Regions from separate parts of the Homo sapiens genome. Here region 1 is linked to region 2. Evidence: fine-mapped expression QTL. Tissue or cell type: whole blood. Region 2 holds a variant in brackets; the other region holds the start of a gene. All regions are shown on one strand. Distances are between the middles of the regions.

The links. PIP is the estimated chance that this variant, and not a neighbour inherited with it, causes the effect.
Region 1: it holds the start of CLN5, and the variant in region 2 is fine-mapped to the expression of CLN5 in whole blood (TOPMed, PIP 0.95).

Annotation. Positions count from the first base shown.
Region 1 is chr13:76,989,969-76,993,968 of GRCh38, forward strand. CLN5 (CLN5 lysosomal BMP synthase) reads left to right here and starts at 2,113. Exons shown (of 4, transcript NM_006493.4): 1 at 2,113-2,303. The coding sequence starts at 2,131. RefSeq lists silencers at 1,447-1,536, 1,627-1,696, 2,157-2,396 and an enhancer at 2,418-3,617.
Region 2 is chr13:77,017,596-77,021,595 of GRCh38, forward strand. It overlaps FBXL3 (F-box and leucine rich repeat protein 3), which reads right to left. Exons shown (of 5, transcript NM_012158.4): 2 at 3,918-4,000; 3 at 1,005-1,127. Among named protein-coding and RNA genes, the nearest start is that of FBXL3, 7.6 kb to the right of the region's middle. The variant T/C (reference allele first, on the strand shown) is at 1,866.

The DNA.
Region 1 (4,000 bases), 28 kb before region 2:
CAACTGGCACACACTTGTACCCAGCCACTAGGGAGGCTGAGGCAGGAGAATTGCTTGAACCCGGGAGGCGGAGGTTGCAGTGAGCCGAAATCACATCACTGCACTCCAGGCTGGGTGACAGAAGGAGACTCCGTCTCCAAAAAAATAAAAAATAAAAACCAATACTAGGAAGTGCTTTCTTACCATGAAAGCTCCCTGCACACAGAATGAAGAGACAGATGGCAGAAGCAAGACCAGAGGCCTCCACCACTGAACAAGGTCAACCTGAATTTGTTTTTGTAGCTCTGGGAAGTCCTGAACTGAATGGGAGGTTCTACTGTGGCCCTCTACTAACAGTAGATGGAACCTGGAACCATCTACTGTTAATTGTCCTTTTAGTAGCCAAGACATGAAGTACCTATCTCCCTTCTTTGTATTTGGTGAAAAGATTTGAACTCGAGCCATCTCTGCTAAAGGCATGACTTTAGTCACCCCACTGCAGTTGCTTCTCTTTGCCTCCAAGAAAGTCCAATCTGATGGGCAGATTGTGCTTGCAGATGACTGGATTAAACTGCAAATATCTCATGAAGCTGCTGCCTGCATCACCGCTCTCCAGGCAGCCACGGAGGCTCTGGTTGTTGAGGCCATCTACTGTGGCCCTCATACATCATACTGTGTATGGTTCCAGGATTTGTAAATGCTCTAATCAATGTTTTTTTTTTTTTTTAAAGCTGTTCCTGCTGATTGCTTTTTAAGCTAGGCTCAAGTGTGGGGCCACGGAATCCTTCAGGTGCCCTTCAAATCAGACATTACATTTCAGCTCTCAGGGCTAGAATGCTTCCCCCTCTTATCTTGGGCAGGTCTTTGAAGAAGCCAGTTTAGCCTTGGTAATTTTGAATTTGGCCATAGTATACGGAGGAGAGCTAGGTAGCTATCAAAACGCTTAGACAAACGTATGGTAAAATGCAGCCCAGCCTGAACCTCCGCAAAACCCCCAAACCTGGAGCAGCAAGTGGGCAAAGGAGTGTGTGTTTGGGGCAGGGTACTGAGTCCCATATGTAATCAAGAGACCTGGAGGGCCCAAGGAAGTCAGTGACACCCCCACAAGCTACATATCCTCCAATGGATTGTGGTGGTCATCTCCGGCTACCGAAGCCACCTTGCTTATTCCCATAGGCTTACAAACATTATGATGCTTCACACGAGTTGTGGGTGAAGTGAAGGAATTGGAAAGTCCCGGTCTAAGGCCCTGCAAAACTGCTGTCTGGTAAAAACAAGTGACTATGGCAAGGCCCTGAATGTACTACGTATAGACTTAAGTCAGTATTTGTGCCTAACAGCAAAGCATGCCACAAGAGGCTCCTCAAAAGCCGGGTAATTGATGCCATTGTTTTCTTGACCTAGTTGAAGAGTCAAAGAAGAGAAGGTGATGCAGAAACTTCTTTCCAGTGAAGTGACAGATCCAAGCAAGGAACACCTGCCTGTGAGGGGAGCGGTAGGGGAGGGGGTAGATTCGGCAGCACTCGGGTAGTGGCAGGGACCACATATTGTCGGTGTTAACCACTGTTATCACTGGCCCAGGTCGAGTGAGGACGAGTCATTTCCCCACTAAGCACTTGGGGAGTGGCAGGGACCACATATTGTCAGTGTTAACCACTGTTATGACTGGCCCAGGTCGGGTGACGACGAGCCATTTCCGCACTATTGTCCCTTCTTCCTCACTGCACCCCCAGCCCTGCACCCTCAGCTCCAAATACACATTCTCGTTCACTCAACGTTTGTTGACACCTAGCGTGGGCCCTGTGGGATGGGGTAAAAGTTCGGTGTTGGGAGGAGCCCCGGTGACAGATTTTTGGTTTTGGTGGTGGCTTTTGGGCAAGGACAGGTCAATTCATAAAAGATGACGCCCCAGGTCTGGATCGAATTCTCCTGGGAGCCAGACCAAAGCACCTTCCTGGACTGCAAAGTGTGGAAGCCGCCGCGGGCCGGGCGCGGGGAGGTGTCATGCGCCGGAACCTGCGCTTGGGGCCAAGCTCTGGAGCTGACGCGCAGGGGCAAGGCGCCCCGCGTCCCGGACTGGCGGCTCCGCGCATGCTCCTCCCACCGGCGTCGCAGGCCTCGAGAGGCTCCGGAAGTACTGGGTGCAGCCTGATGGCGCAGGAGGTAGACACGGCACAGGGCGCCGAGATGCGGCGGGGCGCGGGCGCGGCTCGGGGACGCGCTTCCTGGTGCTGGGCCCTGGCGCTGCTTTGGCTCGCGGTGGTTCCGGGCTGGTCCCGGGTCTCGGGCATCCCCTCCCGGCGCCACTGGCCGGTGCCCTACAAGTGAGTGCGGCGGCGCGCGCACTGTCGGGGTTGGGGTCGGCGTTGACGATGGGGGATGGGGTGCTGGGGCGGGGACCCCTGCTCACCGTGGTTTGTGTCGGGTCACGAGATGGTGCGGGGACAGCGCCGGGTGACGCTCGGAGCGCACTTGAGAGCAAAGTTGAGGACTGGGGAGTCGCAGCCGCTCGTTACGTGCAGCCCTGGGACCTTTCGTCCCCTCTGGTCACTTGCGGCAGACTCAGGACAGTCCTGAATCGTGGAAGAAGAAAAGGAGAGTAATGTTATTTAATGGAGGGACTTCTGGGTACAAGTAGCTGATTTCTTGAGTAGTTTAAAAACACTGTCTATCGCATTTATTTATATCATGCACTGTCGTTAGTTATTACCGCGGAACATTTGGTACAATTTACTGGGCGACCAACTCGCTCTGGTTTGAACCTGATCAGAACCTGATCCGAAGTCCTTATTGGGACTTCCCAGTTTTGCCCTCAAAAGTCGCGCATCCCGGGAATCCCCGTCTCCTGCAGTCCTGGTTAGACCGGGAAGATTGTCACCGCTTTTGTCCAGTCTTCAGCCTGGAGGTAGGACGCCGGTCCTAAGTCGGGGACAGAGCCCGCACACCTGGGAGGTCGATTCCAGCCTTTGACAGAGAAGACACAGCCTCCGGCGGTCAGAGATAGCTAAACACAGAGAAAGAAAACATGGTGTCAACATCAGGCAGGAGAAAGACCAGCAGTTTTTGAAAACAGCTATTTTTCTTTAAACCAAAAGCATCATTGGACATAATTTTAACTTACTAGCATAAGTAATCAACAGCTAAAACTGCACACAACAAACCTGAAAAAAACAGCTATTTTGTATGACAGTATGAGTGGGAAGGAGTTCTGCCTGCTGCGGGTCAAATCTGGCTCTGTCATCACCAGGGATCTTGGGAAAGTTACTCAGAATCTCTGTGCCCACATGCCCTGAGTCAAAAAATAGGAATAGTGGTAGCACGTACCTCATAGGTTTGCTGGAAGGATTAAATCTAGTAAAATGCCAGCTGTTGTCAAACCTAGATAGTGTATTCTGCTCACTGAAATGTTTACAACACTTTTTTGTTTTGTGTGATATACTACGTGGAAAGAGAAGTTTGTGGTTGAAGCTAGTTTTCTGGAAAATGTTAATAATAAAATGTTTGTAAGAAGTCAAAATTACTCAATAGAACAAGAATTGTAAATCCAAACGATTTGATTTAACATTAGGGCAAGGTGTTGACTATGGCTTTTTAGTGGATTTTTTTTTTAAGTCTCAGATATTAAGTACGTGCTCCCATCTAATTCCCTCAATTGAATATAATATTTAAGTTTATTAAGTTCACACTTAAATTACCTTTGAACTAAAATAGATTTTGCTGTGTCAGTGAAATCTCCATGTGATTATGTATTTGTTTAAACCAGGTAAGTGCCTATAAAACACTGTACCCAAGTAGCAGAAACTTTTGGGAGCGTCGTTAATAGTTTCGATTAGCATAAAGATTTTAACTTCTTAAGTTAAAATAGAAATTTTTGTTGATTTGTTAAGATTTGTTAGATCTGGCTACAACCTTGGGGATCTAGGATTCTTAGATAGAAGCTGTTGTCGCCACCACTTCTTTCTTTCCCAGTGCCAGATTATAGGTGACCAGTGTGTCTGTTGAGCTGAATTCAGCTGCAGTG
Region 2 (4,000 bases):
GGAGTACCACAATGATCTTTCTGTACTTAGGATCTTAAAATATTAAGATAATCAGATTCTCCTGCCCATTTCCCTTATTTTATATGTGAAGAAAAACATTTTATCTCAAAATATACATATGTAATGAAAATGTTTCAAAATCAATTAAGACTTTGACATCAACTGGTGATTTATTTGGTACAGACATTCCACTGAAACGACCACTTGGGTTAATATATTCAATTTAGTTATATTCCCTCCTCAATCATCCTAGTACATTAAACTACTAGATACTTAAAAGGGTGTCTATATTTTAGTTTTCAGTGTCTTCTGGGAAAAAAATATCAAATTATTGTTGGATACTAACCTATTAACCATTAGCTAACATATTCAGACACCTTTACCAGTTGCCTTTCTAAAAATGCACCCTTCTTATTTTTGTATTTTAAGAGAATAGTTGTGAGAGAGAGACACGATCTCTGATTATATGCAGGATCATGTTAGAATATATATAAGAATATATGTTAACTTTTCACCCAAAGAAAGGATGTCTTTAAGTCTGTAAATTAATCTAAACTGTGCTGAGACTAACTTTGGTCATGATTAAATCTTTCCAGAACATTTGCCAAAAGATTTTAGAAGCTATACCTGCTCTCAATATTGGCACTCTACTTTTCTTTGATTCTAACTTCACCAACCTGCTCTGGAAGCCCCAAAATGAGTATCTATGTGTCCCTTTTTTTCTAATATGCTTGACTCTATTTTACTTACTGAATTTCTTTTAATACTTCCTATAGACGCCTCTGTAAATTTCTTTAACCATACCAATTTAGAAGTATGGTGATTTAAAAAAAAAAAAAAAAAAGCTTAAAAAAATACTATTTATTTTCATCCTAAATAGTAACTGGTTTTCCATTATGTATATATATAACTTTCCTTATACTCACACTGTCAATACAAAAAAAAAAGATTAGACTTTCACTGAATTTCTCAGTAATAGATAATAAAACAAAAACAGCAGATACCTTTGGTAAATCCATAAAGCTTGGTCGAGCAGTTGAAATAAGTCCAAGTGTTTTTAAAGAGCAATTCACAAGTTGCGATAGTATATCACAAGCTGCTTCAGCTGATTCCTTGCTGCTGTCCACCTTAGAAAAGAAACACCGTTTACTCATGAATATTTTATTATTTTTTTACTTTTTTCCCCAAATACCCAGACTTCAAGATTACTCATGTATATATTTATATTTCTCTGTACACATATTCATTTTATAGAAGTATCATTACTAGTTTATTGCATTATAACTTAAAGAATATTCTTTCAATCATCCACCCTCCACCCTCACCTCCAACTTGGCCTTTTCTAAGTCTCTCTGAAAAAGTATAAGGGCAATTGTCAAGACAAGACCTAGCTTTCATTATGATAAGAGACATATTTAATGTTGGCTTTTACACTGATTTATTCCAAAGTGACTGTATAAACTAATGGAGTAAATCAATTTATAGTCTTTAAAAAATAATTATGTATTTGGTAGTGGATCACATAATAGATGTAAATACAGTGTCTATGGTATGCAATAAAAACTAAGTATTTACTCAAAATGTTCACGTGTATCACAACCTGGGATTCATCATTAATGTTATTAATGGAAAGATGTGAAGTAAAATGAGTGTACTGGACCAGTCAGGCATGAAAATCTAAACTAAATAAGATGTAGCTATTCTCACACATACTTCTGCAAAGACATTTCCTAAGGGAAGGATAAAGGGCCAAAAAATCCCTCAAGGATGTAAAAAGGAGTTCATCCATCAAAAAGTTAGTTGTTTCCTGGGAAGCACCTTAAAACAGTTAAAAGGATATTATTAATTTCCAGATTCATATACAC[T/C]ACTTTATCCCAAAAATGTTAAGAGTGGATTGTAAAACTAATGTGCTAATTATATTAGTTTCAGAGCTACTTATAGATAATATGTGGTCCCTGAGACTAGCAGCATCAACATCACCTGGGAACTTAAATGGGAACAAATGTTCATACCCAACCCAGACCATCTGAATCAGAAACTGTGGGGGTGGGACCAGCAATTTTTGGCTTTACAAGCCCTTCAGGTGATTTTGATGCACATAAAGTTAGAGAACCACTCTTCTAGACTAAAAATTCTAACTATAAGCCTCCTTGGTCTATAATCAGTGAAGACTATCAGGAGAGCCCAGAAGAATCCTGTGATGTGACTCTTTTTTGTAAATCAGAAATTATTTCCTCAGGAAAATTAAAAAAAAAACCCTACTAAAAATGTTCAACTTTTGCACAAATGATTTTATGAGGGTTATACTAGATACACCTGAATTGTATCACAGGGCTATAAAAATGACCCAGCAAATCTACTAGGTGGAACTGGACTTTAAGACCTATCAGAGGAATGTATTTGTATTATACTCATCTTTGTATACAATTTACCATTAGAACACTCTTACACAATTCAAAGATAACTAAAACCAAACAGAAACCTCTTTAGCCTTCTTCCCTGGGGGTATGGGGATGAGTCCTGAATTTTTGTTTGATCCCCCTACCTTTGCCCCCAGTTAGGATCGCAAGATAATATACTAGACACCAATTAAGTTTCAGGTAAACAACAGATATTTTTTAGCATTAAAGATGTCCTAAACATTAAAAGGGATGTAACTATACTAAAAATTATTCATTGATTATCCGAAATTCAAATTTAAATACTCATCTTACATTTTTATTTGTAAAACCTGGCAATCAGTGGCCTAAGCGCCTTTGTGCAGTTTTCTGGGAAAAAAAAGGCAAAAACATATCCAACCATTCCCACCACCAATTCTCTCCTCCTCCTTGGACAGACATGGGAGAATAAGCAGGTAATCTCCACCTAAGAGGAAATTACATTCTTCGAGGGAAGACAAGATTTTAGTTATGGCCAGAAGCTCTGGGTTAAGAACTACTGTTCTGCCTAGGTTTAGCCTGGACTATTCAGCAACTGCTTGTGTCCAGATAAATCAAGTATTCATGCATTGTTTTTTTTTTTCAATAAGTTATTTGCTACCACAAAATCTGGTGTTTAAAGATCCAGTAAACATGTCCATATTTCATTATTCATCACCCAAACAAAACATGACAAGCCTCACACAAACCACTGTGATTTTTTATTTTTTTAAATAGAGACAGGGTCTCGCTCTGTCACCAAGGCTGTAGTACAGCTGCACAATCATAGCTCACCACAACCTCAAACTCCTGGGCTCATGCAATCTTCCCGCCTCAGCCTCCTGAGAAGCTGGGACTATGGGACTACAGGTACCCACATCCAGCTATGATTTCTTAAATTATTCTGGATATCGCAAAAAGCCACCCACTTCATTTATCTCATCACTGCATGATTTCCAATACCTTCCTTCCAGCAACAAAAAGAAATAAACAGTTCCCTTTGGCATTCTCCCATGTACCTTTTTCTATTTCTCTCTAAAATATATTCATCTAAATCTTCTACATAAAGTTTCTATGCTTCCTTTTCATCTGAAGATCCCATTTCAAAAAGCCATCAGTAAGTAACACTAAGTTCCTGTTAGATAGAAATAGCAATTAAGCTCTACTCAATTATAATCTCCCAATTTTTATTTTATTAGATATTTCTTCTTCCTCAAAATCGTTCACAATAATTCAATGTAATTCACAGCTTTATCAATGACTTATGCTTATTTAGTGGCTGCTTTTGCTGTTTTAAGAAATTATTAATAATTAATAGAGTAATTTAGCTCCATCAAATATAATATTTTGTGACAGCTTCTAAGGTATACAATAATTCTAAATTTTTAAGCATTTTCCCTGAAAAAGCAAATATTTTAAAGGCATGAGAAGATGTACTGGTTTAGGAAACAAAGCCACTAAAAATACTTTATTTTTTAAAAGAAGGATTTAAAATATTACCTTGAAGCTGACATATTGTAGATGGTTTGAATGTCTTTTAATAATCTGTTTGATCAGCTCTGGATGGGTAGCTTTCAAATAAG